Linked DNA regions of Homo sapiens. The protein of the gene in region 2 purifies or fractionates together with the protein of the main gene of each other region. This does not show direct contact. Each region holds a gene or a part of one and is shown on either strand. Other genes may lie near its edges. The genes, in order: SIKE1, STK26, SLMAP and FGFR1OP2.

Evidence for each region.
Region 1: the proteins of STK26 (region 2) and SIKE1 purify together in Homo sapiens (affinity purification with mass spectrometry; 4 studies listed by BioGRID and IntAct, with this or other methods). This does not show direct contact.
Region 3: the proteins of STK26 (region 2) and SLMAP purify together in Homo sapiens (affinity purification with mass spectrometry; 5 studies listed by BioGRID and IntAct, with this or other methods). This does not show direct contact.
Region 4: the proteins of STK26 (region 2) and FGFR1OP2 purify together in Homo sapiens (affinity purification with mass spectrometry; 4 studies listed by BioGRID and IntAct, with this or other methods). This does not show direct contact.

What each region holds. Positions count from the first base shown.
Region 1 is NC_000001.11:114,770,549-114,777,833, forward strand, and holds part of SIKE1 (suppressor of IKBKE 1), read right to left. Parts: intron 5,912-7,285; coding exon 5,798-5,911; intron 3,825-5,797; coding exon 3,723-3,824; 3' UTR 1-3,722.
Region 2 is NC_000023.11:132,018,308-132,026,424, forward strand, and holds the start of STK26 (serine/threonine-protein kinase 26), read left to right. Parts: upstream 1-4,994; 5' UTR 4,995-5,100; intron 5,101-5,200; 5' UTR 5,201-5,310; coding exon 5,311-5,352; intron 5,353-8,117. UniProt on the Homo sapiens protein: Serine/threonine-protein kinase that acts as a mediator of cell growth. Modulates apoptosis. In association with STK24 negatively regulates Golgi reorientation in polarized cell migration upon RHO activation.
Region 3 is NC_000003.12:57,906,128-57,913,412, forward strand, and holds part of SLMAP (sarcolemmal membrane-associated protein), read left to right. Parts: intron 1-1,756; coding exon 1,757-1,879; intron 1,880-2,927; coding exon of another isoform or gene 2,928-2,948; coding exon 2,949-3,023; intron 3,024-5,759; exon of another isoform or gene 5,760-5,794; intron 5,795-6,011; coding exon of another isoform or gene 6,012-6,064; exon of another isoform or gene 6,065-6,253; coding exon 6,254-6,574; intron 6,575-7,030; coding exon 7,031-7,148; coding exon of another isoform or gene 7,149-7,215; exon of another isoform or gene 7,216-7,285. UniProt on the Homo sapiens protein: Associates with the striatin-interacting phosphatase and kinase (STRIPAK) core complex, forming the extended (SIKE1:SLMAP)STRIPAK complex.
Region 4 is NC_000012.12:26,948,306-26,955,590, forward strand, and holds part of FGFR1OP2 (FGFR1 oncogene partner 2), read left to right. Parts: intron 1-5,839; 5' UTR 5,840-5,853; coding exon 5,854-5,988; intron 5,989-7,285. UniProt on the Homo sapiens protein: May be involved in wound healing pathway.

The DNA.
Region 1 (7,285 bases), on a different chromosome or scaffold from region 2:
TGAAGGCAGATGTTTCTTCCTTAGCTGCAAAAGGAGGCTGAGAAAACATTACCTGGTACTTTCAAATTCTTTAGGAGGAAGAAATGCTCTGCCTCATTAGGTGAGGGATTCCTTAAACACAGGAGTTAGGATACTGGGCAGCCAAAAGAGAAATGACAGATGTCTGCTACAGCCCATTCTCTTGGCCATTCAATGTCAACACACTCCTTCAGCTAATTCTTCCAAAACTATATTCAAGGGGAAAGGACTTGACAATATAAAGTCACAGACATGTCACAGTCACAGACACTGTTAATTGCTTTCTCAATATTCTTTCTTCTTGCTAATACTGATTTTATTTGGGACAGCTATGTACCCTGCTTTCTTTGCAGGTACCAGTGGCCATTTAACTGGTCAGGCAATTAAGTCAAGGGAAAATCCATTTGGGATTTCTGAGAAAGCTTTGCTTTCCCTCATAAAAGGCGATATATATAGCTGGCACAGGCCATTTCCATTTTTTCTTCCTTGCCTTCAACATGGCCATGACATTTGGCTTGGCAACAACTTTCTAGCAAACACAAGAAAACAGCATGAGGGATGTAAGCCAATATGGTAAGGAGGCAGATTTGAAAGACAGAACTGCACCTTTTCCTGTATATAGTAAGAGTCACTGATTAAACATTATTCCTTTCAGTTGAATCACACATACTCTCAGCTACACCATTCTAGAAAATAATATCTCATTAGTTAAGACTCCATTTATTGAATTCATAATACTTTATAAGCTGTGGTGTTTCTTTTGCACTAATAAAAATAGATTTTGCTAATCAAGAACCACTTGAACTCCCAACAGTATTTGGCATTTAGGCATCTCAAGTTAGTTAGTGATTAAAAATGTGCTTAAGACTCTGTCTGGGTTTGAATCTTGGTTCCAGTTTGGACAAATAACCACCTCCTTGTGCCTGAGTATCTGCAAAATGAGGTACAGTTAAAATGGAGTTTATATAATACAGTACCTGACAGGTAGTAAAGCACTCAATAGATGGTAGCTATTATTGGCAATACCATACATACTTTGCTTTTGTGGCACCAAAGTTTTCTATTTCCCTCCTACCCATTTATTATCTCTATTGAATTCTCAAGTTTAAAGTCCCTCTTCTGTATCTTATACATACTATAATGGATTTATCACACTGCATTATAATTTTATATATATACTTGTCTCCTGTACCAGACTTTTTCATTTTTAAATTCATAAGTACTAATGAAGTGGTTGGCACATAGACTATTTTCTTTTTCATCTTTTAGAGTGCTAACTATTACACAATGGGGCCTAGACTAGATATTTTAAAATCAGTGTCTTTAGGAATTGTTTGAGATGATTAGAATACAAATTCTTGAACTTCATCACCAAGTTTCTATTTCAGTAGGTCAGGGAAGCACATTTTGAAGAACACTAAAATAGACCTTCAATGTTTGAATCCAATTATGCATAAGGTATTAATATAAGAATTATACATAAGATATTGATATAATACTACACTAATATAAGGTACTATTTGTAGAGTTATACACTGCTGAATATACTGTGCTAATTACAAAGTATTTATGACTCTTGTGAGGACCACTTGACAAGGTTGCTATATATATGTAAAAAAACCCTCTGCACTTCCTCATTTGACTTACTACTGAGTAAAATTAGCTTATCTTCTCAAAATGCAGTTTTTGTTAGAAAATATAATTTTGAACTAAGATTTTTGCAAACCAGGCAAGTTCTTCATCCACTCAAGGAGAAACTTTAAAATCCACTTAAAATGAAGAGCATTCCTCCCCGACTCAATTTTCTAACTACATATTATCTTCATAGCATTAACACCAGCCAGAATTTATATTATGTAGAGCACTAAAAGCTTCTTAGACTTGTACCTCAGGCTTTTAATTTTGCAGGGGGAAAAGTTAGTATGTCGATTTATCCTAACACTTGAGATATAAAGAACTTTATAAACAGCTCTAAAGGAACATAAAGCACATAAAGGGACACCATATTATACCTTGATTTGATTACTTCATCATTTTCACTGAAATCTGGCCATGGTAGGTTTGGCCGTGGCTGCCAAATGGTATAGAGTACCTGCCTCTTGAATGGATTTATGGGGTCACTTAAGGTATACTTCGAGGCAGATGGCTGGGCTAATAGTTACTTACTTACTCTTGGGAAATGAAATAAAAAATGCTCACACTTGGAAGTGTTTTTTTTGTCAAATTCTATGCAGGATATCAAACAGAAATTTGAAAAATTCTTAAATGACATATACCTATTCATTAACACCCACTGCTCTAGATGACATCCATTAGTTATTACTGGGATCAGATGCTTTTAGGACATCTTTAAAATATTTTGTTATTTTAACTGTAGTTCTTTATAGCATTACGAAAGAAATATCACTCACATAAAGCACTAACAACTCTTTTTAGTACTGTGTCTCTCCCATGCAGTATGGTGCTTAATGTTACTGGAAAATATTGACAGGTTTAGCATTATTTCAACTAATTCTGGGCAAATCTAAATAGAATAGTATAACATGAAGAAATTTATAAATTTGAAATGTGAGTAAACTGGGACGGGAATGAGTTGATGAGTGAACCCAGTTGACCACTGGGCATTTGAATCTCAATGTTGCCTACACAGCATTATGAGTGTAATAATTTTCATTAGGTAACAAAACTGCTTCCTCACCTTTTTATATAGCTTAAACAAAAAAAAAGAAAAAAGATAAAAAAAAACCCTGCTTCTATGTAAACAAAAAAAAAGAAAGCCAACTATTAGTGCTAGGAATGAAAGACATCCAATCCAAGTAAGTGATGGTTCTTAACTATAAAATGGAAATTGTATAAAAATTAAAATAGAATGTAGAACTAGTAGGATAACATTGAAAAACTGACTACTTATATTTGTTTTTTTTATTTTGTGTGTGTTTTTGGCTGATTATATTTAATAAAAGCTACTTTTAGTATTTGAACTAAGTGCACATGTGTGCATTCACATACACAGGACAAGCTCCTCAGCTTTGAACAATATGAACTTTGGACAATATGACAACTATAGCATCACTGGGCAAAAAAAATAGCTGACTTATTTCCAAGTGTGTTTCCTGGGACTAGCAGTAGGTTCTCTCAAATTAAAAGTAAAGGCACCAGGCTATAAAGTGCCAATTCTTAGCACCAGAGAGACTTAAAATGTCACAGGTGAATGACATTACAAATCAGAGAATCTGCTGATCTAGTTCTGTGGAATTGTATTATTTTTGTCAAATGGAAAAAAAAAATCAAGGTTTATGCCAAATAGATTTAAACAGTTAAATCTTTCCTAAAATTTCCTAGAAGTGTATTTTACAATGCTATGTAAAATAAATTGCTGGCTTATAAAAAATGCTCAAAGTTTCAGAGATGTGAAAAATAACAAAGAACTGAAAACATAGTTTATATAAATCAAGGTCCCAGAAATGAAAATTAAAAGTAGTCTCTTTGAGAAAGGAATGGTGAAATTCAGCATGTAGTATTCACATTAACACATCTGAGAACTGTGGACAGCCAATATTGACTGGAATTCTAAATTGCCACCTGATACCTTTAATTAAGATTAAATCAAATCTGAGGCAAGACACTTAATGGACAGTACTTGAATGGGAAGACAGTAACTTCCTTCCTTGATAGACAATCTCCAGCCATCATTCAGAGTTCAGTTATTTGATGGCTTGGGAAGCAGTGTCCATTGAGTTTTCCTTTCTGGCTTGAAGAGACTCACTGCTGATGGACAATAATTCTCGAAGTTCCTTATTTTCAAGCTGGAAAAAAAAAGGCATGTTTATTTCTGGTATTTTTACTGTCCAACTGCATTACAACAACACATTATTTTGAGCCAGGAGCAGAAAACATTATTTTAATTTTAAAAAATTTATGGAAACAAAAAATCCACTAGTTGAGAATTTCCTTAAATACTACTTTATTCATTTAACAAACATTTACATGTAGGATGTAGGCAATGATACTCTTTTGTAGTAGTAATTTACTGAGTAATTTCTATATACCAAGTGTTAGGATTACAAAGGAGAAACAAAAAACAAGGTCCTCTCCATTTAAGGAATTCACTGTTATATTCTTCTTGGTTCCCACAGTTTTACTATTATTTCTTTTATTTAAAAAATTCCTAATAATCGTTTCACTCTGATTAATCTCCTCTCCTGGATATCTTACAGTTCTAGAGAAATGGAAGGAAAGGGGGAAAGAAATTACTTATTGAGCATGTAGCTGGGTACTACTTGGGTGCCCTGTATATGTTATCTCACAATAATCTGTAGGGTAGGTATCATTGCCTACATCCATATATTTCAGATGAGGATACTCTGGCTCACAAAATTCCTAAAAGTTGTCCAAATTCAGACAACTTGGATGTGGTATTGCTGGGGTCTGAATCTGGTGGTCGTGTATTTTCTACTTGAAGTATTAAGGTAGAATTTGCCCCACATTTCCTTAGGGCTGTTTCCGTAAGTGAGGTAAATCGGGGATAAATAGAAGGTCATGCTATCATTTCACTAGCTCCTAATTCCTACTTGGGACCTGTCACTACCTTTGATTTCTAGAGAGGGTAGCTTCTGCTCTTCATCCTTATCCTCTGCAGAAAACTCTGGTAAACCAAAGCATTTTTAGCTTCACCAAGATGTGCGGAAGTCCCAGCTAGAGTAACTAAGAGATTAGAGCCTGTGGTCGACGAATCTTCTACCACATGAAGTGCTTCCTTCGGTATTTGTATCTGTCTCCTAGCATTTACATATTATTTAATATCATATAATACTAGGGTTATCCCTTCCACTAGACTCTGGGCAGGTATCTGTTTTTTTCTCTCTGGTATTTCTCAAAGGCCCCAGGACAGCACCTTGTAATAAGCAGCATTCAAACCATTCACTGAAATGCTTTGCTTTTTTTTTTTTTTTTTTGAGACAGGGTCTCACTCTGTCACTCGGTTGGAGTGCAGTGGCATGCATGATCGTGGCTCACTGCAGCCTTGACTTCCCAGGTTCAGGTGATCCTCACACCTCAGCCTCTGAGTACCTGGGATTACAGGTGTGCACCACCACACCTGGCTAATTTTCTGTATTTTTTGTAAAGACAGGGTTCCGCCATGTTGCCCAAGCTGCTCTTGAACTCTTGGGCTCAAGCAATTCACTTACCTCAGCCTCTCAAAGTTGAAATGTTTTTCCTTAACAATTTTATGAGCACACTAATACCCCGAACTTTTTTTGTAACATATTCCTATTCTAATCAAAATATGACATAAACATAGCTTTTAAGAAATCAAGACTACAAGGCTTATACAAGCAGTTCTTTGGCTTTGTACCCCAAATGCAACCACTTTTAACACTTTTATCTATTTCTTTTGGTATTTAATTCTGTAATTCTAAATAATATGCTTATACTGCTATTTCCTGATCATCAATTTTAGACATTATCTACTTCACTTCTTATTATGGCAGATGAAGGATTTTATCTCACATATAACTTCTCCCCTCCACTCCCTCTACCTTCCCATATGATAATACCTCAAGTTCTTGCCAATACATAGTTGGTATTTCCATTGATTGCTGTTTACTATATTTCCTTTCTTCAAAAGGGTATAAAAGGGTATGAAGGAGGAGTTTTAATTTTAAATCATGAGCACACAGAAAACATCAATATATTACAGTGATGGGATAGTGATGGCATATCTTCCAGACTCGGAAAACTATGAAATACTGTGAACCTAAATTAGCTACAATCTTACCTCTAATTGGGCTAATTTTTCCTGAATCTTACAAAACTGGTCATCATCCACCTGAACTGCTTTCCTCATCACTTCTCCCATTTCACAGATTCTGTCAATCTGACTCTCAATTTCCTGTGAAGATATTAAGGAAACAAAGGTGGAAAAATCACCTGTTCTGTAGATATAAAGAACGTAAAAGCATGTGCATTACGATTTTTAAAAGTTCATTTAATCTATGATACAGAAGTTACAATGGAGTTTCCCTACAATTTTAGTCCTCAGACATGAAGCCATAGTAAAGTGACCTTGTATTCACGGATATTTTTTTTTTTTTCTTTCAAAAAATCAATTGTGGAAGACAGTGTGGTGATTCCTCAAGGATCTAGAACTAGAAATACCATTTGACCCAGCAATCCCATTACTGGGTATATACCCAAAGGATTGTAAATCATGCTACTATAAAGACACATGCACACATGTTTATTGCGGCACTATTCACAATAGCAAAGACTTGGAACCAACCCAAATGTCCATCAATGATAGACTGGATTAAGAAAATGTGGCACATATATACCATGGAATACTATGCAGCCATAAAAAAGGATGAGTTCATGTCCTTTGTAGGGACATGGATGAAGCTGGAAACCATCATTCTGAGCAAACTATCACAAAGACAGAAAACCAAACACCGCATGTTCTCACTCATAGGTGGGAATTGAACAATGAGAACACTTGGACACAGGGTGGGGAACATCACACACCGGGGCCTGTCATAGGGTTGGGGGAGTGGGGACGGATAGCATTAGGAGGAATACCTAATGTAAAGGACGAGTTAATGGGTGCAGCACACCATCATGGCACATGTATACATATGTTAACAAACCTGCACGTTTTGCACATGTACCCTAGAACTTATTTAAAAAACAAACAAAAAAAAGGCCTCCTTAAGGGGATCCTCATTCCAGTTGTATATGTTCTATTGATACCACTACTAAGGAATACAGTTTTTTAAAATATATATAATGTTTCTTATATTTAAAACCAAGAAGTGAAGAGTAGAATGCATTTTCTGTTTTCGCTCTTTGCCCAGACATCAAGTTGATAATCATATGGTTATCTGTGATATGCATCAGCTCATAAGTAACCCTTTGGTATGTGAACATGGGGAATTTTAAAATACTGGGCTCTTCAATATGGATTTGTGTTACACTCATGTCATCATCTCATGCCTTCCAAGATTTCAAAGGATCTGATGGCTGTAATTGCAGAGAATAAATGAGTAATCTTTAGTCTATTTCAGAAATAGAAGGCCACATGATTCCCTTTCCATAAAGGACTAAGGTTTCATCCAATGCCAACTCTGGTAAGGCCTTAGTCATTTTTGTGGGTGAAATCTGATTCGATGCAAGCAATGTTATTTTCATTTCTGAAAATTATCTATGTCCAGTGCATCAATCCCCCAGTAGGTCCACACTCCAATAAAAAGATTTGAAATGGAAAAAAAAA
Region 2 (8,117 bases):
GTATAGTTTCCATTATATATAATACTATGATAATATATTGTGCAAGCCACAAAAGGTGGAAGGTTATTCAGGAGAATTCGGAAGTCACACAGTTTTAATGTTTAAGGTTTAATGTTCCTTGACCAAGGTCTGATTCAATAGGTTTCTTCTTGGGATGCTATGCTGGAACAATAGCAACGATACATATGACATCTGCAAGAACTATCATAACATGGTTTCCAACTTGATGTCCAATGAGAGTAAACAGTAAATTTGAGGTATCATCTATGCTTTTATTAAAATAAAAAATGGCCCTTGAATGTTGTACTTCCAAATATCAGTAGACTCCGCAGCCTGAATCAAAATATTCCCATCACTGGATGGTGAGCTTCTAGAATTACCCAGATAATTTTCTTTAGTTTCAAATACTCAGGTAAGTATATCAATTTGCCATTATATTTCATACATATATACATTTTATCCATTTCATCATAGTCACTAGGCTCAAAATGTGTAAGTCCAAAATGTGAAATCCTACCTTTAAATTTTGTAAAGTAGAATAAGAGGTCAAATTTATCATGATGAGTTAACATATTTGAAGGCTAGGTAATGCCTGGTATATTAGAACATGCTCAGTAATTAATTTTTTTAAAAAATCATTATTTTTTTACTTAAAGTTATTTTCTGTTCAACACTATTTTTCATTAAGTTGTATTCACTTTTAGGGGGCAGATGATCTATGGTTCATTACAGAGGTAAAATAAGAATACTGCTTTGTTTCTATTACCCACTTGATGTGGCTCAATATCTTATGAGTCTTTTCTTTATTTGGTCCCAGCCACAACACTGAGCTAAAATCTTCAGAGAACAATGATTTTCAAGTCTGTTTCTTGGTTAGTAGCTCCTAATGCAAAAAGTGCGGAGCATGGTTTCTCAAACCTTATCATTATTGACATTGTGGACTGAATAGTTCTTTCTTGTGGGGACTGCCCTGTGCGTCGTAAGATGTTTAACAGCATCCCTGGCCTCCACTCTCTAGATGCCAGTAGCACCTACCTGCCTATTTGTGATACCCAGAAATGTTCTCCAGAAGGCATAATTGGTCCTAGTTGAAAAACATGCCCTTATTTCACTGCCGCCTGTATTAAAGTTTGGCTATTTCCATCTACCTACACTTTAGCTAAGAACCAGTCAATTCAGTAAATATTTGTAAACATGGGTAAAGTTAAATATTTAATACAGGTTGAGCATCCCTAATCTGAAAATCTGAAATCTAAAATGCTCCAAAATTGGAAACTTTTTGAGTGCTGACATGATATCACAAGTAGAAAATTCCATACCTGACACCTTTGCTTTCTGATGGTTCAATGTATACCAACTTTGTTTCATGTACAAATTAAAAATATTGTATAAAACTATCATCAGGCTATGTATATAAGGTGTATCTGAAGCATAAACGAATTTAATGTTCAGACTTGTGTCCCATACCCAAGATATTACGTATATGCAATTATTCCAAACTCCAAAAACATCCAAAATCTGAAGCACTTCTTGTCCTAAGCATTTTGGATAAGGGATACTCAACCTGAATAGAGGGTATGACAAATGTCAGGAAATTGAAACCAGGTGCCAAATGTAAATTATTAAGTTTTGAGGCCTCAAGAACACTGTCTAACTTGAAATTCACTAACCTTACCTAATCTGTGTATAATGTTACTCAAAACCTTACCTAATCTGTGTATAATCTTATTTTATTTATATGGTTATTAAGTATTCACAGCCATTCAGATCACATCAATCAAGCAGGTACCAAATCCTTTCTGAGGTGCTATGTTACACTCTACGTGTGACCAAAAAGCATAAGTTGTGTCTCTCCTCAAGAAACGTTTTCCATTAAACTACGGGAATACACTGTAATATATTTTCAGACTCTGGGCTGACTTTTTTTTTTTTTTTTTTTTGGAGATGGAGTCTCGCTCTGTGGCCCAGGGCGGAGTACAGTGGCATGATCTCAGCTCACTGCAACTTCTGCCTCCCAGGTTCAAGCAATTCTCCTGCCTCAGCTTCCAGAGTAGCTGGGATTACAGGCACACACCACCATGTCCAGCTAATTTTTGTATTTTTAGTAGAGATGGGGTTTCGCCATGTTGGCCAGGCTGGTCTCAAACTCCTGACCTCAGGTAACCTGCCCGCCTCGGCCTCCCAAAGTGCTGGGAACAGGGGTGAGGCACCACGCCTGGCCTGGGCTGACAATTTGAAGTAAAATATTTAAGTTTCCTTTGTGTGTGTGTGTAACAAAAGCGTACTTGAATTTCTTGTCATTTTATTTAAGAATTTGAGAAATAATCCAGTTCAAAGTGGAAAAAAAGTTTCTAATGCTCATAAAATTTGAATTGTTTTCAAATGTTGACACCTTCACAAGATTTAATTTATAGATACACACACACACACAGACACAGACACACACACACACACACACAGGAAAAATCATTTAAAAGCCCACAAGCAATCCCATGTAAAAACTCAAGTGATCTCTATCAATTATAACAACAACTGATGCTTTATTTAATAGCAGTAAACCTAAATAAAGGCTAAAAAGCTCACTAAGATCTCAAATGCAATGTCTTTCAGGAAATGTCTCAATATTCCAGGTCTCAGCATTAAGCTTTTATTCTTCCACATAGTTACATAACTCTGGCCCAGAATGATGTCAGAGAAAGTCATTTCTCTGATATGCTTAATTTACTTATCTATCAAAATTATACAACTGGCTCATAAGTAGTTGTGAAATTAAACTAGCAGGAAAGAATTTTGGAGACTAAATAATGAAAGATGTAACACACAATAAACTGAACAATTTAAATGTTCAGTAAGGGCAATGCCTAGGGGTTTAACCTGACATCAATAAAATATATAGTGTATACATTATGCACCTAGTAACCTCAGTGGAGAATTCAAAAGAAGTTCATTCATTCATTCAACAATTATTTATTGAGGGCCTACTACATGCCATGAACCTAGTCTCTGGGGATACAGCAATGGACAAAATGTATAAAAAGCTTGCCCTCAGACTCCTGCCATCCTACCTGAATCATTCTCATGTAAGAGAGGCTGGATCTCTGCCCTCAAGGACCTAATATGGGCACACAAAACAAATGAAATATATGAAATAAGAAGAAAGAACTACAGTGTGAGCGCTGCTCACATTGGAGGAGTTTGAAGGAGGGCTTGGAGCAACTAGGAAGGGTCAATGGAGGTGAGATTTGAGACAGGTCTTAAATGATGGAGCTTGATTCAGACCCTTGCGACTTAAAAGTGTGATCTAAACATCATCACCATGTGAGAGCTTGTTAGCATTGCAGAATCTTGGGCCCAGTCCAGACATGGGAGATAAAAATCTGCGCTTTTGAGGGAGCAAAAGAACCCTCGGATTTCTATGGACATTAAAAGTTTAGGTGGCACTGCAGGTTTCCGGTCAGGCTGGCAATGTTGTGAGCTGGGTTGGTGGGAAATCGAGACTAGATTGGAGCCTAACATTAGGTTAGAAATAGTGAAGGGCTGGACTTGGGGAACTAGGAGTAAGGAAAATGCAATTGTACCTTTTATCATCATTAAACACAAACAGAAACCATAGAGAAAGTAGTAAGTTTATCACCAGTCAGAGGGACCTGCGTCTGAATTCCCAGCTGTACCACTTCTTAATTGCGTGACATTTCGGTCAAATTATTTAACCTGGTTGAGCCTTTTTCTTCATCTGTAAAATGAGGGGAAATCAATAAGACTCCAGAAGGCCCTTGTACAGGTTCAGTAAGGTATTAATAACACATAGAAAGCACTTAGCAGTCCCTGGCACAATGAAAATAATATCCATTAATAATAACGATATTGATAAGAATTATATACTATTCTCTGAAAAAGATTTAAAAGGAAGAAGAGAAACTATCTTTTACCACTAGAGGCCCCCCACCGTGTGGTGCGTAGAGACCCATAACAAATTTCAAGGTAAGGAACTTCATCTTCATTTTAAACTGGCACTCGACTATTACTTTTTTAAAAAGTAATTAACCCCTTACGTGTTCCCAAAGGTGCCTTCATAATGAAATTCCTGTTACTATTATTACCAGTGTTACTGTCGCTACTGTTAGAGTACTCTCAAAAGAGCCTGTCTCCCTCTCCTGGAGTAGAACTTAAAATGGGGCGGAGGCAGGGAGTTACCAAAACCACTGCAGTGTATGCTGATTTCAATAACCTGTACTGCTAACGATCCAATCTCATTTCCCAAGCCTCTACTATCCTCATTAATTTTTCTGCCGATGTACCATCTGTTTTCCAATTTCCCTCTGCCTTACACGTGCAGAACTTGTGGTAGAGAGAAGCCCTAGTTTGGCCGTTCTGCAAGGGATAGCCCAGGAGGTAGGGGGAACCTTAAGTTGAAGTCACCTGAAGCATGTTTGGGGTCAGGGAACTCGGAAAGCAAGAGTGTGGCCACAGATCTGCCCAGAGGCGCGACCCCCAGCTGAGGAGACCAGATGGCGGGAAAAAGCGGGGGTCCACCGACTCCGCGGCTATCTGTAATCCTACCCTTGGCCAGGCCGGGGAGCCAAGAAAGACTTCCAACACTCCCCAAGTTTCAGCTCAAGTCGTCTCCGAGGCTGCGTGTGCCCCAGCCTCGCACGCCTCCCTGCAACGTGGCCGCATCTGGGGCGCCCTCATACCCTCAGGGTTTCCCAAACTCTTCCATTCTCTTCCCAGGCCCAGCCATGTCCCAGGTCTCCGGGTCCCCGGGTTCTCCTCTCCGCGTGCCGGGAGAGTCTCCAGCTTCTCAGACTCCAGCAACCCCAGCCAAACCTCTTCGCTGCCTGGAGCCTTGGCTCCCGCGACACCGCCCGGCTGCGGGGCGGGGGCAGGGCCAACGGCGGAACCGCCCCCAACCGCCTCCCAGGCCAGGCGAGCAGGCGGGTGGCTGGGGCGCCTCCACCTCCTCTTCCTAAAGCGGCGAGGCGCAGAGGAGCGGCATCACTCGAGCCCAGGTCCCAGCCACCACCACTCACAGCGCTCGGCGTTCAGGAAGAGGAGCAGCAGCGGAGGCGGCTGCTTCAGCGGCGGGCGGGCGCCAGAAAGGTAGACTGAGTCCCAGGGAGCTGCGCCGCTAACAGCCCACCTCCTAGCCCCGGGCTACGCGCCGCCAGCCCAGTAACCCCACTTTTGTGTGTCCTCCCAGGCCCCGATCGAAAAGCCTGGGAGGGCCGCCGAACTACCCCCGGAGGGAGGAGCCAGTCCGAACCCAAGGCGCCACCGCCGCAGAAGCGGAGCGAGGCAGCATTCGCCTCCATGGCCCACTCGCCGGTGGCTGTCCAAGTGCCTGGGATGCAGGTGAGGAAGCGCAGGCCGCCCCCGCCGCCCACGTGACTGCTTGGGAGCCCGGTGCGCCCTCGGTGCTGGGCACCGGCGACAAGGGACGGCCCCAGGGCTCCCCTGAGGGCAGGGCCGGTCACTATGGCCAGGTGACCTGGGAGTAGGGCTGGAGGTGTTTCCTGGTGTGTAGGCTAGGTAGTGCTCTTCGCTGGGAAGGCGAGGCGGGACTGGAGCGCGCAACTAGGTGGAGATTGAGGGCGGTTGGGGGTATAAAAATAGGCCAGAGCCACAGACACCTGCGCCTGCTGAGCTTGGCACGGTTGGGGATGGGGGGGCGGAACTTAACCTGGGAGAGATGGAAGTGCCTTGGAATTTGTGGGGTATAACGCGAGTAGTGAGTGCCCTACACCCCCCACCCCAAACACACACTCAAGTTGGGGCGGGGCAACACCAGGGGTGGCGGCGGCGGCGGCTTGAATTGGGCTCTTCCTGTGTGCGTAGGGCTAAGAGAGAGGTGACCTCTTTCTCCCTTTCGGTACTGCTGCTTAAGGGCAAAGTTGTAGCTTGCTCCCCGACCTAGCCCAGCCCATAGTGTGGCGTGAGAAATGCTGGTTCTGTTCAGAGTCACTGAGGTGATGACTTCTCAGCCCCCTCCGTGCCTTTCCCACAAGATGACTGTTACATGTGGTTAAAGGAAGCTTTTTGTCTTGGACAAGGGACTACTGCATGGGACCCAACTTGTTACTCGAAGTCTACCCAGCCCAACCCCCTCCCATTATATTTTCATTTTATTAAAGATAAGCTATGTCAGAAAACTTTTTATGCTGTTATGTTTTTAAATCGGTGCATTTTAGGCTATCTGCTAAGTGTTATCCAAATTTACTAACTTTTTAAAGCATTCATGTTCTATTTTTTTTTCCTTTGCTAGATGGCCTAAACAACCCATTTAGGGGCTAAAACCACTGAAGCCTCAGTCTTTCATGATCTAAAATGTGAAAACAAACTTTTTTGAAGTTCAAAAATAAAATGTTTATAGTAAATAGCTTATATTTCTAGTAGAAATCAAAGAGCTGTAGACTGGGGCCTCAATTTACTTATTGATACATGGAGTTTTTTTTTTTTTTTCAGTGTTCTCATTTTATGAATGTCCACAAAAGTGATTTTTAAATTCTTTCCCAAAATGGGATTTATTTGTGCACCTAGAACTCTTGGTGTGTCCTAAACACCAGACATTTCAGCTGCATTTAGGGCAAGTCTGGGTTGAGTCTCAGGAAGTTAGTGTATATTAAATAAAGAGAGAGAGAGAAAGGGAAATAGGAAATAGTAGGGCTTAAAAAAAAAGATTAATCCACTCAAGCCTTGCAAAATGCCTTAAACTTTCTTCCTCTCAGGCGGCCTCCCCTCTCCTTCCCTCCTTCTTTTCCCCACGCACCCTGCCCCACACCCCATTCATTCAGTTCTGCCTTTGATTGTATCAAGGGAATTCATAGTTCACAATACTAAGTACAGTTTTGCTGTTTGATCTGGGAAAAAGTGACATTTTCTCACCGTGCTCTTCTTTCCATTCTGTGGAGAGTAAAACGATGCACATGTGAAGTTTGTCTCTGAGGGTCTCCATGCTTCTCGCTCCATTGTGTGCGCGAGCCTGCGTGTGTGCGTCAGCAGAGTGAGTGCCTCCAGTTCATCAAGTTTGTGATTCTGGGGAACTCTGTGTGCTGAGGGGAAAATGGTTTCTGATTTTTATTTTATTTGTCTTGAACTTATTGAATTTATATGGTTTAGGAACTGCTTGCTGTTCAGTATTTCTGATTGCTCCCTGCTTTTAATTATCTGAGTTGCCTATCTCTTGAATTTTTAAATCTTAATTAATGTGGATTCGAATGTGAATCATATACTTTAAATTACAAATTCTGCCTTTCACTCTGTGCCCTCTGAGTTGTGATTACTTTGTCCCACCTAATTTGAGTAGGGCAAACATCTCAACGTTAGCAAAGAAGAGAGGAATCTTTTTTTTTTTTTTTTTTGGTCATTCTCTTCATCTTAATGAAATGGTAAATTCTTAACTTCTTATTTCCATTTTATTTCTAATGTAGTTCTTAAGCACTTTGTGCAGCACACAGTTTTTTCCATAGTTGAAAATGTACAATACCTTAATAATAAATTTGATAGCATGCAGTGTGACTCTTGAAGCTAGACTATTTTTATTATTGTTATGTAGCAAAATATTGCAGATGAGATGCAGAAATCTATCGTGAGCTTGTAAAATTCTCCTAGAGTTTTATGAAGGCGTTAGGAGCAACTTTTAGACCTTTAGAAAACTTCAGTTAGCCATGTGTTCTTGAAATTACTGTATAGTGTTTCCACAAATCAGGGTGAGGTAGCCGACCAGCCTATAACTTTTTAACAGTTTATTTTAGAGAATTATGAAGATTGATGGGAAAAATGATTTTTCCAGAAATACAAAGAAAATTACTTTATCCACAATTATTTTCTCCCTCTGAGGAGAGACGTGAAGTAGAAGCCCAGCTACCTGTTCTATCACTTAAGATTTCCAGCATTCCTGACTTTCAAACAAAGAAATTGCTGTTGCCACTAGTTTAAAATAGAAAAGAAACTTGGAGTGAAGAAAGAAAACCCAGGATTTCGTCCAGTTCAAACTCTTCCTTATGAATTAGTTATTCAAACTCATATTGTTGATATTTCTTAATATTGTGGTAACGAACATTTTTTGCCACGTTACACCAAATGTTGAGGGTATGAAGTTTTTTGTACTTAATTTGTGC
Region 3 (7,285 bases), on a different chromosome or scaffold from region 2:
TCCAGTGGATAGTGTTGAAAGAGCTGTGAGAGAAGTTTTGTAGCTAATGCAACAGTGTTTCTGCCACTGGAAAAATCTCTCTCTCTACATGCCCCTTCCCTGGCCCAAAGACCTTTTGAAGGAAGAATTGATAAGTTGACTAGAGTAGCTGAACCCAGAATCAAATTTTTTTCTTTTTTTTTCTTTTTTTTTTTTTTTTTTTTTTAGAGACACAGTCACTCTCTGTCGCCCAGGCTGGAGTGCAGTGGCGCGATCTTGGCTCATTGCCACCTCTGCCTCCCAGGTTCAAGCAATTCTCGTGCCTCAGCCTCCTGAGTAGCTGGGATTACAGGCGCGCACCACCACGCCCAGCTAATTTTTAGTATTTTTAGTAGAGACGGGGTTTCCACATGTTGCCCAGGCTGGTCTCAAACTCCTGACCTCAAGTGATCTGCCTGCCTCAGCCTCCCAGAGTGCTAGGATTACAGGCATGAACCACCGCGCCTAGGCCAGAATACAATTTTTCTAGAGAGAAAAATAGGATATAATCTATGAATATGAAAAAAAAATATATATATATATATATATATATATAATTTCCAAAACCTATTGTAATTGTATTGTGAAAGTTATTCTTAGCTCTTTTTTGATGAATTGAAGTTATTATGCTGAGGTACTTATAAACCAAGGTGATACTCAAATAGAATTCATTAGAACAATATGGCTTACCTGATGATATATTTATTTCAGGCAGTGTTCAGTAGCAGAAGGTTTTAAAAAATTAAAAAGCAGAATGATTGGAGAGGAAGGAGTTTAGGGGAAGGGGCATATTTGAAATAGAATGCTGGATTTAATTTATTTCGGTAAAACCACTTAGGTTACATCATTTAATATATTCAGCAGATTTTTGTTGTTGTTGCGGTTTTTTTTTTTCTTTTTGATACAGAGTCTCACTCTGTTGCCCAGGCTGGAGCGCAGTGGCGCGATCTCGGCTCACTGCAACGTCTGCCTCTTGTGTTCAAGCAGTTCTCCTGCCTCAGCCTCCCAAGTAGCTGGGACTACTGGCACCTGCCACCACGCCTGGCTAATTTTTTGTGTTTTTAGTAGAGACGGGGTTTCACCGTATTAGCCAGGATGGTCTCGATCTCCTGACCTCGTGATCCGCCTGCCTCAGCCTCCCAAAGTGCTGGGATTACAGGCATGAGCCACCACGCCCAGCTCAGATATTTGTTATATGTGCGTGTTGGGGAAATGATGATGACAAAGTAGGCTCAGTAGAGCTTTCAGCCTAGTTTTTATTTTGTGTTCCACAACTAGGGTAATTGTGCTAAAATTTAGCTGTTACTTGAAGAAAAGTTTCTTTTTGTTTTCCATATCCAGTTAAGTTCCAAGTGAAATTTTTCTGACTGGTTATCAAGAAATTTCAAAATTGATGAAGAAGTATAGCATTTTGCTCATCTCACTGAATTTCAAGTCTTAATAAGCAATGAGTTATAATCTGTCACTGTCTGTTTATTTTGATGCTAGAATTGTGAATATATAATTTATGTTAATATATTTTTATAATGTCATCACCATGATTACTAATATATATAACTGTATTTGTATTTTCTCCCAACTACTAAAATGCTTACTATAATTTGCTTCTAAGTTTTATTTAACTCAGTTGTTCTATGTTGTTTATGCATGTGCAAACATGAGAGAGATTACCAGTCTTTTATTGTAGATTATAGTGTGATACTAACTCTTGCTTTTAAAATAAACATGTTTTTGTCAGATGACTTGCAGGGTGCACAGTCAGAAATTGAGGCAAAGCAAGAAATACAGCATCTTCGAAAGGAATTGATCGAAGCCCAGGAGCTAGCTAGAACAAGTAAACAAAAATGCTTTGAACTTCAAGGTGAGATCAAGATTACTTTGGTTCTTTAGGGATGTGTGGAGGCAGCACAATATAATTGGGTGGCCCCAAACTTGGAGTCCGGAGGCATGTTCCAGATTCACAACTTTATGAGATATGTGATCTTGGTATATTTACTTGACCTCTCTAAACTTGTGTTTCAGGTCAGTAAAATGAGGAGAGTTACAGTTGCTCTACCTTCACACTGTTGATGTGAAAATCAAGTAAGATCTTTACTAACTGAAAGATCTTAATAGTTAATTGCATATTAAGTACAACAGAAGGAAAACTCAAATTTCTAAATTTTTATTATGCCTAATGTTAGCTAATGTCCTGGCCACATTCTTTTCTAGTAGCTCACTTATCTATAGGTCATAAGCCAGTGGAGTCTGTGCAGTTCCCTAGAGCTTACATTTCTGTATCATTCATAGTAACTACCTGGTTGCAGACAATTAGTATCTCAAAGAGTCTTAAAATGAGAAAGGGAATGACTTCTGGAGCCCTCATGTTCTCCAAGATGGCCTTCCTGCCTAGTAGGAAGATTTACATCCCAGGAGGGAACTAGGAACTTCTTGTTACTACTTCTTTCCTTTCCTAATTCTCAAAGAAATTAGAATTGGTATTCACTTAACTTGAACCTTTTGGAGGATCCAGGCTAATATATTAAATTACAATGAAAAAATATTTGGTAAATAGCAATTATTTAGTTTAGTGTTTACTATGTGCTTGACAGTAAATATAAGAATTTTAAGTCTTTTTAAAAAATTAAGTTCAAAATGCTGATTAACAATTATCAAGACTGTTTCTCATGTTAAGAAAAGCACATATTGTCTTGGTGATACCAGGTCCAGAAAACTCCACTACTCAGTTGAATAGATTTATTACTTACTACAGTTCTGTGCTCCTAAAATCTTTAAACTAACTGCTAATACTGATAATACTTACTGCCTAACTTTTGTTTCTTTCAATAATCTTTTAGGAGAGAATTTTAAAAGAAATTTTCAGCTGCTCAACTCTGAGTACTTTCATTAATTCACAAAACTATTAATAGATACTGTGTTTTTACTTTTAGCTCTTTTGGAAGAAGAAAGAAAAGCCTATCGAAATCAAGTTGAGGAATCCACTAAACAAATACAGGTTCTTCAAGGTATGGAAGACCCCAAGGCTCTTTGAGATTGTTATTGTGTGTTTGTTTTTAGTGATTCAAAAGGAATGGAGGCCAGGCGCAGTGGCTCATGCCTGCAATCCCAGCATTTGGGAGGCCGAGAAGGGTGGATCTCCTGAGGTCAGGAATTCGAGAGCAGTGTGGCCAACATGGTGAACCCCTGTCTCCACTAAAAATACAAAAATTAGCTGGGCATGGTGGTGCATGCCTGTAATCCCAGCTTCTCGGGAGGCTGAGGCAGGAGAATTGCTTGAACCTGGGAGGTGGAGGTTTCAGTGAGCTGGGATTGCACCACTGCACTCCAGCCTGGGTGACAGAGCAAGACTCCATCTCAGAAAAAAAAAAAAAAATGAAATGGAAAGTAAGAAGGCAGAGAGTCCCCATTTTTCATGGCTTTGATTCTCTAGAACCTCACATTTCAACACGGCTCTTGGTGGAGCTTTATTTATTTATTTGTTTTTGAGACAGAGTTTCGCTCTTGTTGCCCAGGCTGGAGTACAATGGCGCGGTCTCACCTTACTGCAACCTCCGCCTCCCAGGTTCAAGCAATTCTCCTGCCTCAGCCTCCTGAGTAGCTGGGATTACAGGCATGCGCCACCACACCCAGCTAATTTTGTATTTTTAGTAGAGATGGGGTTTCTCCATGTTGGTCAGGCTGATCTCAAACTCCCAACCTCAGGTGATCCACCAATCTTGGCCTCCCAAAGTGCTGGGATTACAGGTGTGAGCCACTGCGCCTGGCCTATTTTTTTTTTTTTTTTAAAGAAAATTCAAGGGAAGATTGTCCAGTACTCTCGTATTAGACACTTAGAATGGAAAAAGCAGAGGTGAAGATTTGGAGTTGGTAAGACTGTCACTTTCTGAGTTATGTCGTGAGTTCCTACAGAGGGCCTTTGGATAGGAAATCTGTTTGAGCTACTCTGCGTCAGCACTTTGAGCTTGCTGGTATATGTATATATTGATGGCTGGTGTAGATATATTGCCATCTAATGCTCAGAACACACTTGTATTGCAAGAAAATATTTTTTTGCTTGTTTTTTTGAGACATAGTCTTGCTCTGTTGCCCAGGCTGGAGTGCAGTGGTGATCTTGGCTCACTACAACCTCCGTCTCCCGAGTTCAAGTGATTCTGGAGCCTCCCAAGTAGCTGGGACTACAGGTGCATGCCACCATGCCCAGCTAATTTTTGTATTTTTAGCAGAGATGGGGTTTCACTATATTGGCCAGGCTGGTCTCAAACTCCTGACCTCGTGATCCACCCACCTTGGCCTCCCAAAGTGCAGAGATTACAGGCATGAGCCACTGCACCTGGCCTCAAGAAAAATTATATATCACGTGGAATAGGATAGTAGTCTCTGCACTGATTTTCGTTGATAATGGCTGTTCTTCTTATCACCATTTTGCTATTTCTTTGTCTGGGCTATTACAGGGTTATTACAGAAATTTCCAGAAAGACCCCTGCCTGTCGAATGTTTACTTCAAGCTTGAGCTCCTGGTATATTATGAGGAAATTATATGATACCCCAGGAGAGGTCTTCCTTTCCCATGCCATTGTAAAATTCCTAAAGTAAAATTAATTTGCCTTCTTGTCAAAGAAGGAGCCAATGTTGTTTTAAAATTTTAGCTTGAGAGATAGGTGGGGAAGAAATTAAATAGACAAGTAATCACTATTCAGAAGAGAAGGGAGAGTCATTGTACGAGGCCCAAGATACTTGCCCAAAAATATCGCAGAGAAAAACTAGTCTTTGGGGTCCTATTTTTTGAGTGGAACATTTGAGTTATTTAAAATTAGAATTTTATTTTGGTCAGATTAGAATTTCTAGGGTATGTCATATGTGTTTTTAAATTGAAAGCTCTTAAAACTCCTATTGTAGTTTAATGTCATTATCCATTAATTTACATAAATCTGATTTGGATCTCTATTTTCATCGTAGACTGTGTAGGGGCAATTTTTCCTAAAGGTTCTGTGACATAGTGCTACCTTTTTTTTAAAACCTGTCTTGCCCAGGCATTATTGAGTGCCCCCTGGTGCCAGCATGTGTATTTCACGACTGTATCAACAAATCATGATCATCTTCTCTGGCCATTGTGCCCTTTCAGATTCCAAACTTGTTACCTCTCAGTCCTTCCTACAAACTTAGAAAGTCTAATATCTTAATGTTTACTTATGTAGCAACCTCCCTTTCTCCCATCCCTAAATCCTCTTGTAATTAATTATTTTCCTTTGGAACTTTTTAAATCTACAATTTCCTTATAATATGGTAACCAATATTAATTTTCTTGTTCTGCGCCAAGTTTGATTTTATACAAATTGTTTCCAGTTTGGGTCATGAGCACAAAACCAGGTATTTTTAAAAATCTATATAACCCTTCAATGAGGCAGTATTAATTTTATTAACTCATTAATTCAACCAATAATTCTTGATTGTTTACTGTGTTAGATATTGGGGTATCCCCAATACCTGACAGCTGTGAGCAAAACAAATGCCCTACACACATGAGGTGTACAGTCCAGTAGAAAAGATAAACAATAAGCAAATTAATAGATAATATGATGTCCAATAAGGACTTCAAAGGAAAATAAAGCAGAGTAAAGAGCCAGAGAATGACAGTGAGCTGTTTTTCACATGAGTCATCAGAAAAGGCCTCTTTAAAGAATTGACATTTGAACAGAAAAACGAATCAAGGGCGTCAACTGTTTATTGCTTTTATTGCTTACCATTTGACCAAGCAATTCTACACATAGGATTCACCCTAAAAAAAAAAAAAAAAAAAAAAAAAAGGATTGTATATAGTGTTTAAACACTGAACAGCCTAAAATGTCAAAAATAAAGGGTTGGGCAAATAAGTTATATATACTATAACTATTTTTTTGTTGAAAGAGTTTCATCAACAGAAGGATAGGGAACACTGCATTTATTGTGATCACTCCCTATTTAATGTTTGTTTTTACATGTTTATAAATGCATAGGAAAAAATCCAGAAGGAATATCAGAAGTAATTTTCTGTGTGTTGGGGAGATGAAGATCACTTTGGTTTTTTTTTCCTCTTTGCTATCTGTATTTTGACGCTTTCTGCATCAAACGTGGATTGTTTATACACTTTAATCAAAAGCAACAGCTCTGACAACCCAGGTTATGCATTAGCTACAATCCTGTATGGATTATTCTTTTATTCTAATGGGCCAAGAAAATGATGGATATACTTTTGCAGCCCAATTGCAGAGGTTACACATCGATACTGAGAATCTCCGGGAGGAGAAGGACAGTGAAATCACAAGTACTAGAGATGAATTGCTTAGTGCCCGAGATGAAATTTTGCTCCTTCATCAAGCAGCAGCAAAGGTTGCCTCTGAGCGGGACACTGACATTGCTTCTTTACAAGAAGAGCTTAAGAAGGTGAGAGCTGAGCTTGAGCGGTGGCGGAAAGCAGCGTCTGAATATGAGAAAGAAATCACAAGTCTGCAAAACAGTTTTCAGCTTAGATGTCAACAGTGTGAGGACCAGCAGAGAGAAGAAGCAACAAGGTTGCAAGGTGAATAAATGTATTTTACATAAAGCTGTTAACTTTTGACAATGATAACTTCTTAACTTGTTTAAAAAAGAAACATGCAGGCTTTTTTTTTCTTTGTTAGCTATCAGTTGTATAAACCAATGTTTTTAAATCGGAGCTAAAAATGTATTTTCAGGTCTGCAAGTTCTACTTAAATTTATATTTTTTTACGGTTTTATATTTTATTTTAAAATTGTTAAAAATTGCTTGTCTTATAAAAGTGAAGTGGAAAAAAATACTATTGTTCAAGTACAAGCTGATAGCAGTCCTTGAGGTATACATGCAAAGTAACAGGAATCATATAATTAACCATGTAAAATCTACTTGCTTTTAAGGGGGCAAAAAGTATGTTCTCCTCTGAAATCTTTTCCTTTATCCTTTGAAGTATTATGGAAGTTATATTTCTGTATTAACAAATATGTTTTGGGACTATTTTAGGTGAACTAGAGAAGTTGAGAAAGGAATGGAATGCATTGGAAACCGAATGCCATTCTCTAAAAAGGGAAAATGTTTTGCTATCATCAGAACTGCAACGGCAAGAAAAAGAATTGCACAAGTATGCAAGAACTCTCTGTTTTTCAGATATAAAATATTTCTTTATCTTAAATTTTCATCTAAATTAAATTTAATTTTAATACTTAAATATTTTACAGGAGCAAATGTTCAGCCCATCTCTGTTTGGCTATTTGGCAG
Region 4 (7,285 bases), on a different chromosome or scaffold from region 2:
TAACTGAAGAGTATTCTTTATAATAAGTCTACTGGAAATAAGTTCTTCTTTCTCTTCAGCTGAGAATGACTTTTATTTCACCTTCATATATGAAACATATTTTTGCTGGATATAGAATTTTGGGTTGATAGGTCTGTTCTTTCAGCATTTTGAAAGTGTTGTTCTACTTTTTACTGGCCTTCATTTCTGTTGGGAAGCCTACAGTCATTCAAATTGTTCTCTATGAGTAATATGTCATTTTTCTCTGGCTGCTTTCAAGATTTTCTCTTTGTCTTTAGTTTTTGGAAATGTGACTACAACGTGTCTGGAGTTAGATCTTGTTGGAAACTCCTGCCTGGGGTTTCCTGAGGACTGGGAATGATGAAGACAAGGTTTCTTAGAAGGAAGCAAAGTGTTACATCATCGAAATGTATAAGTTTCAACTATTGAAGTTAAATATGTTTTTATATTATTGGATGACAAGTTAGAATGCGCTTGGGAGAATACACAAAATACAGTATTTTAGTCATTGTGAATATTGTGTCTTTTCGGTAGGGGACTCTTCTAAGGTATTCATAACGTAAACATACTAGAATATTTAAGAATATTGCCTGGCATGGTGGCATGCACCTATATAGTCTCAGCTACTCAGGAGACTGAAGTGGAGGGTCTTTGGAGTCCAGGAGTTCCAGCCTGGGTGATGGCAAGACCTCGCCTCTAAAAATAACTAAACTTAAAAAAATAATAATAAATATTTCTAAACCATGGAGAGAGGCAACTCCATAAAATCTTCTTAGAGATGTTCAGAAAGTTGTTCAGGAATGGTTTTAGTCGTTGATTCACCATTACAGTTTTTCTTTTTCATTTTGAGATGGAGTTTCGCTTTTGTTGCCCAGGCTAGAGTGCAATGGCGCGATCTCAGCTCACTGCAACCTCCACCTCCCAGGTACAAGCGATTCTCCTGTCTTGGCCTCCCAAGTAGCTCAGATTACAGGCTTGCACCACCACGCCCTGCTAATTTTTTTGTATTTAGTAGAGATGGGGTTTCATCATGTTAGGCTGGTCGCGAACTCCTGACCTCAGGTGATCCACCCACCTCAGCCTCCCAAAGTGCTGGGATTACAGGTGTGCACCACCACACCTGGCCTACAGTTTTTCCAGATTAATTTATTTACAAATGAAGCATGAATTAACCAGTATCCTATGCTATCCAAGGTAAGTTTTCCCATTCGTGTTTAATATTGTGGCCATTTTTTTCTACTTAAATGAAATGTTTCATGGAGTAGTATCTGTTTGAGGTTTTTTTTGTTTGAGACAGAGTTTTGCTCTTGTTGCCCAGGCTGGAGTGCAATGATGCGATCTTGGCTCGCTGCAACCTCTGCCTCCCGGGTTCAAGCGATTCTCCTGTCTCAGCTTCCCGAGTAGCTGGGATTACAGGCGCATGCCACCACACCCAGCTAATTTTTGTATTTTTAGTAGAGATGAGGTTTCATCATTATTGGTCAGGCTGGTCTCGAACTCCTGACCTCAGGTGATCCACCTGCCTCAGCCTCCCAAAGTACTGGGATTACAGGAGTGAGCCACCGTGCCTGGCCCTGTTTGAGGTGTTATGTGGTACTATCAAGTAGCCATTCTGATTATGTCAGTTTTTATCTTCATGGATCTTACAACTTGATGGTCACAATGGTTCTTTTGAAATTTGACAGGCCAAATTTTGTGTATCTATCATGGAGTCTTTTAACTTCTTCATGGGTTTATTTTACAGTTTCATATGAGGCTTTTGCATAAGGACATTTAGTCAAAGCATCCCGCTTATAGTAACGAACTTTAAGGTATTTCTATGGTATCTACAATATTGTTTCTACCTTTATGATAGCAGTTATATTAGGCAGCTACCATCAAGCCATCAAGTAGTTAATGTATTCGTTGTTTTTTTTTTTTTTTTTTTTTTTTTTGAGACAGAGTCCCGTTCTGTCACCCAGGCTGGAGGTGCAGTGGCACAATCTCGGCTCACTGCAAGCTCCGCCTCCCGGGTTCACGCTATTCTCCTGCCTCAGCCTCCTGCGTAGCTGAGACTACAGGCGCATGCCACTACGCCCGGCTAATTTTTTTTTTGTATTTTTAGTAGAGACGGAGTTTCACTGTGTTAGCCAGGATGGTCTCGATCTCCTGACCTCGTGATCCACCCGCCTCGGCCTCCCAAAGTGCTGGGATTACAGGCGTGAGCCACCGCACCTGCCCTGTATTCATTGTTTTTAAAAGGATATCTGAGAAACCTCTTTTCTTTGCAGCATTTCAGAGAAGTGGATTATTCTAAAAGCATATCACCTATTCATGTATATATTTACTTTCAGTAAGTTGCTCCATCTTAGTGGAGCACAGTTAAGTCATTTGATCAGTCTGGCTTCTGGTAAGAAATTGAATTTTATCACAGTGACTGATGTACCTGTTGCATATCAAGCCTGATACTGCTGATTTTTGTTTTTAAGATAAAACCCATTAACAAACAGTAAAGTCAGGATTTGGTACTAGAAAATTCAAAAGTTTTGTTTTGGACTTGAATACTTCTTGAGTTATGGAATCACAATCATGAGATTTTCCTTGCAGTAGGTAAAGGTTGCTGGATTAATACTGTTACACAGTGAATGGTAATATGAAAAAGAGAGAGTAGCAATATTTCATGATTACTCAAATGATAGAAATTTTGGATGGTTTCCTTTAGCAATAGGGATTTACTATGCATGGTAACATGAGGTTTAAAGACCTAGAATAACCTCTGAAGATGCTTTGATTAATTCAGTTGAGGTTTATAATTGCTCGGAGGCAGGGAAGCTAAACCTTAGCTGCTGAATTAAGGTATACGATTTTTTTTTTTTCTTTTTTTGAGATGCAGCCTCACTCTGAGGCCCAGGCTGGAGTGCAGTGGTGCTATGGCTCACTGCAACCTCTGCCTACTGGGTTTAAGTGATTCTCCTGCCTCAGCCTCCCAAATAGCTGGGATTACAGGCACCCCCCGACCAGGCCCGGCTAATTTTTGTATTTATTTATTTAGTTAGTTATTGAGACAGCCTGTTGCCCAGGCTGTAGTGCAGTGGTGCAATTTTGGCTCACTACAACCTCTGCCTCCCAAGTTCAAGCAATTCTCTTGCCTCAGCTTCCTGAGTAGCTGGTATCACAGGTGTGTGCCACCACGCCCAGCTAATTTTTGTATTTTTAGTAGAGACGGTGTTTCACCATGTTGGGCAGGCTGGTCTTGAACTCCTGAATTCAAGTGATCTGCCCTCCTCGACCTCCCAAAGTGCTGGGATTACAGGTGTGAGCCACTGCGCCCAGCCCAAGGTATACAATATAATAGACAGTGGGGTTTTGATGTCGTGTTGTTAATACTCCCAGGACACAGGGTACTATTTTTGTACTCAAAAAGATTTATGATTATGTAGGAAGACTATCTAGACTGAGGGCTATTTAGCTATCTGATCATATATAGGACCTTATTGCGTTTTATTTGGAAACAGATCCTGTCTATTGCATTTGTAGATGTTATGTTTTAGTGTGTAAAGAAGGGTTCTTCTTATAGTAGTCCCAACAATATCATTTACAGATTAGGACTGTTAGAGAGTTCTATTACTTGAGTTCTATTAAACCAAGGTAAACTTTATTTTCTCTCAAATCTTTTACAATTTGTTGTAGAGTTTCAAATTTGTCTTTTATTACTTTCACCATCTGTTATAAACTATTATTTTTACTATAAAACCAATTTTTTTGGTTATTTCATTTTTCTTAGTACAAGTCAGTGCCCGTCCTTTTTTTTTTTTTTTTTTTTAATTTTGCTTTACAGACAGCTTTAAAAGTTTACTCAGAAGGATCCGATGTTCTATAGTAATGGGATTAATGGGAGTTATAGTGATGTCCATTTAACCTATTTATGTTAACTTTCTTAACAAATAAGAAAGTTGTCTGTCTACAGTTTTAGATAATTTCCTTTGGAAATTTAGAGGAAGTACAGGGTATTGTTGGGCACTAATGCCTCTCTCAGAACGGCATCTTCGGATAGATTTTGGGTAGTTGTCCTTTTGGGTATTAGCCAGTATCAGACAATATTGGTTCCTTTAATGGCCCTTTTACTCCTCATATTTTCAAGCATCCTTATCTAAACCTCCTGAATCTTACAAGACAAATCTTGTGGTGGTTTTCTCTAGAGAGCCAGAAGTTATATTAATTTCCAGCTTGTTTACTTCTTAAGGCTCTCTGGAAATGTCTGATCATATATTGGACATTTTCTAAATTGGCGATTTAAATAACAGGAGAAAGTCTTCTGAAATTGCCTGATGTGTTTTATGAAATATTTTATACTGTTGAGTTATTTAAATTTTCTCTTTGCTACTTGTTGCTTTTTTTTTTTTTTTGTATTGGAGGGGATAATCATTAATTGGACTAGTTGGTACAGATCTGTAGTCCAGGGCAGTGGTATATAACAAAGTCCTGAATTCTGTGGCAAATTGCTGTTTTAATAAAGTTGATGAAAGTCTTTGTTTATAACCCTTCACTTGGATCTACACCAAATTTTAATTTAACTTCTGTAGACGTGGCTTCTGGCCTGGTAATTTAGTGTGATTTTATTTTTTGAGGAAACCCTGAAGAAAGGATGACTTATATTGAACGTTAGGTAAAACTTAGTAGAAAGATAAAAGATTTCAGCTGGGCACGGTGGCTCACACGTGTAATCCCAGCGCTTTGGGAGGCCAAGGCGGGCGGATCATGAGGTCAGGAGATCGAGACCATCCTGGCTAACACAGTGAAACCCCCGACTCTACTAAAAATACAAAAAAATGAGCCAGGCGTGGTGGCAGGTGCCTGTAGTCCCAGCTACTCGGGAGGCTGAGGCAGGAAAATGGCGTGAACCTGGGAGGTGGAGCTTGCAGTGAGCCGAGATCACGCCGCTGCACTCCAGCCAGCCTGGGCGACAGAGCGAGACTGTGTCTCCAAAAAAAAAAAAAAAAAAAAAGGAAGATAAAAGATTTCAAGGAGGGTAAGTGTAAGTTTCAGGAGAAACTTAAAGTTTTGGAAAGAGACTTTAAAATTATTAAAATTTTGTTTGAGGTTTCTACATACCAGTTGAAGAAGCTGACAATTGACTGTTTCATGTTTTGTCTCATATTTCTTTCAGCTACTCTTAAACATATTGCTTACTGATTTTAGCATATCAGAAGTTTCCTGTAATTACCAGTTTTGTCCTAAGTCAAAACTTTTTTTTGCACTTTAAGGAAGATGCAAGAGTTAGAATTATAATGCAACTTTATGTAAGAAGCAGAAGTTCTTCCAAGAAGAGGTTGAGACTTTAATGTAGCATGACACATTGAGGCCACTTCGGCTGGTCAGCAGTGTTTGTGAACAGTGTGTCAAGTCACCTGACCAAGCAGAGGTTAGGAAGCATTCTTACAGTCAAAGTTTTCAGACAGTCATTGACCCCAGAATACTGACCAGTAAACCAAATGATCTTCCTCAAAAGTGACAAGATAGGGAATGCCCTCATAAAGGGCAAATTTCTATATAACATTATATTCCTTGGACATGTACTTTTTTCCCCACTGTAAATTTAGAGTGTTTTAAATGCGTTCTAGTTCTGTCTGCAAATCTTTTAACTGTGTTCTAATTTTTTTGTAATAGTATAAATTTACTTTCAAGTTTGTAGTATCCTAACAGAAGCAAAACCACAGTGTTCTTAGGTGTTTTTTCCTCCCTGGACAGTGAACAATACTGTAACAAATGTGGCTTAAGAAGCATATCTGTGTTGACATGAAGCTAAAATAAAGAGATATGTTGACTTTATTTTGAGTCTTGATTTTAATTTTAATTATAGATATATCTTTAGAAATGAGTTGCACAATTGAGAAGGCACTTGCCGACGCTAAAGCTCTTGTTGAAAGATTAAGAGATCATGACGATGCAGCAGAATCTCTGATTGAGCAAACCACAGCTCTCAACAAGCGAGTAGAAGCCATGAAACAGGTTTGATTTTTCTTTCTTGTTCATTCCATTTATCAAAAGCAGTCATTGACATTTATGTATTGCTGGCTAATTAGTATCTAATTTTTTTCAACATTCTCTAAAATTTTAAAGTAGCTTGACTTGTGTGTTTCAGGTTTACTTTAATTTTGTCGTGTTCAGGTGATATACCTAGACATATATTTCTAAACCCTAGATTTGATCACTTATTTTGCTGACAGAGTTGCACATTTGAGTTTAGAAAATAAATGAATTTGTTAGGTCTAGAAACATTTGACAAAGACCAGATAATACCTTTTACTAATGTTGGTACACATTTTGTTCTGTCTTGTATAATGTAGAAATGTTCATATTTTTCTTTATAAAAGTACTTAGGTGATGCTGTTTAACAACAAAATAGCTTTTGAAAATGATGCAAGGTAATATGTGATTTATACTCTGTGCAGTTATTGTACCCATACTTGCTACCTTATTTTTCATTCAGTGCTACCAATTAAAGAATACATAAGGGCTTTCTTCTTGCTATTTTTACTATTGTATAACAGAATATTCCCATGGGCCACGGAGTTTAGACACTATTTTAACCTTCTTCTGATAAAAATTTTCAAGTCATTTAAGAAAATTATAAAATCTCTGACATTATGATGGAAATCAGAGGGGGAAAATGTATATTCACAGCCAAATCTCCTCATCTATTTTGTAAAAGGAAGCAATTCTGGGATAGTATTTTTAACAAAGCTACTGGAAATAGTGGAGCAAGTTTAGTTATTTGGTTTTACAACTGTGTTGCCCTAAACAGATTTACCTGCATCCCTAACCAACTGTCCAGCTAGACTCAGGCACTTCAGTGAACATATATCTGGTATTGAGTTGTTAAAAAAGGAGTTTGACATCTGAAGTTAAGAACCAGGAGTGTTATAATGAATATGTTACTAAGTGTCTCATGAGAATGCCTTGAAAATAAATAAGTGCAATTTTAAAATAAGATTCTCATTTTCTTAATGGAAAATCTTTTTGCATTTCTTTTGTACATGTTCTATTAAGATATTCACATACCATAAAATTTACTTTTTTGAAGGGTACAGTTCATTGGATTTTAGTACACATTTGCAGGTTATGCAGTATAACCACTACCTGATTCCAGAACATTTTCATCACCACAAAACCTTACATCCATCAGTGGTCTCTCTCTAGTTTCCCCTTTCCTCAGTCTCTGGCAACCACTAATATTTCTATCTCTTTGAATTTGCCTATTCTGGACATTTCATATAAATGGAATGATAAAATATGCGGCTTTTTG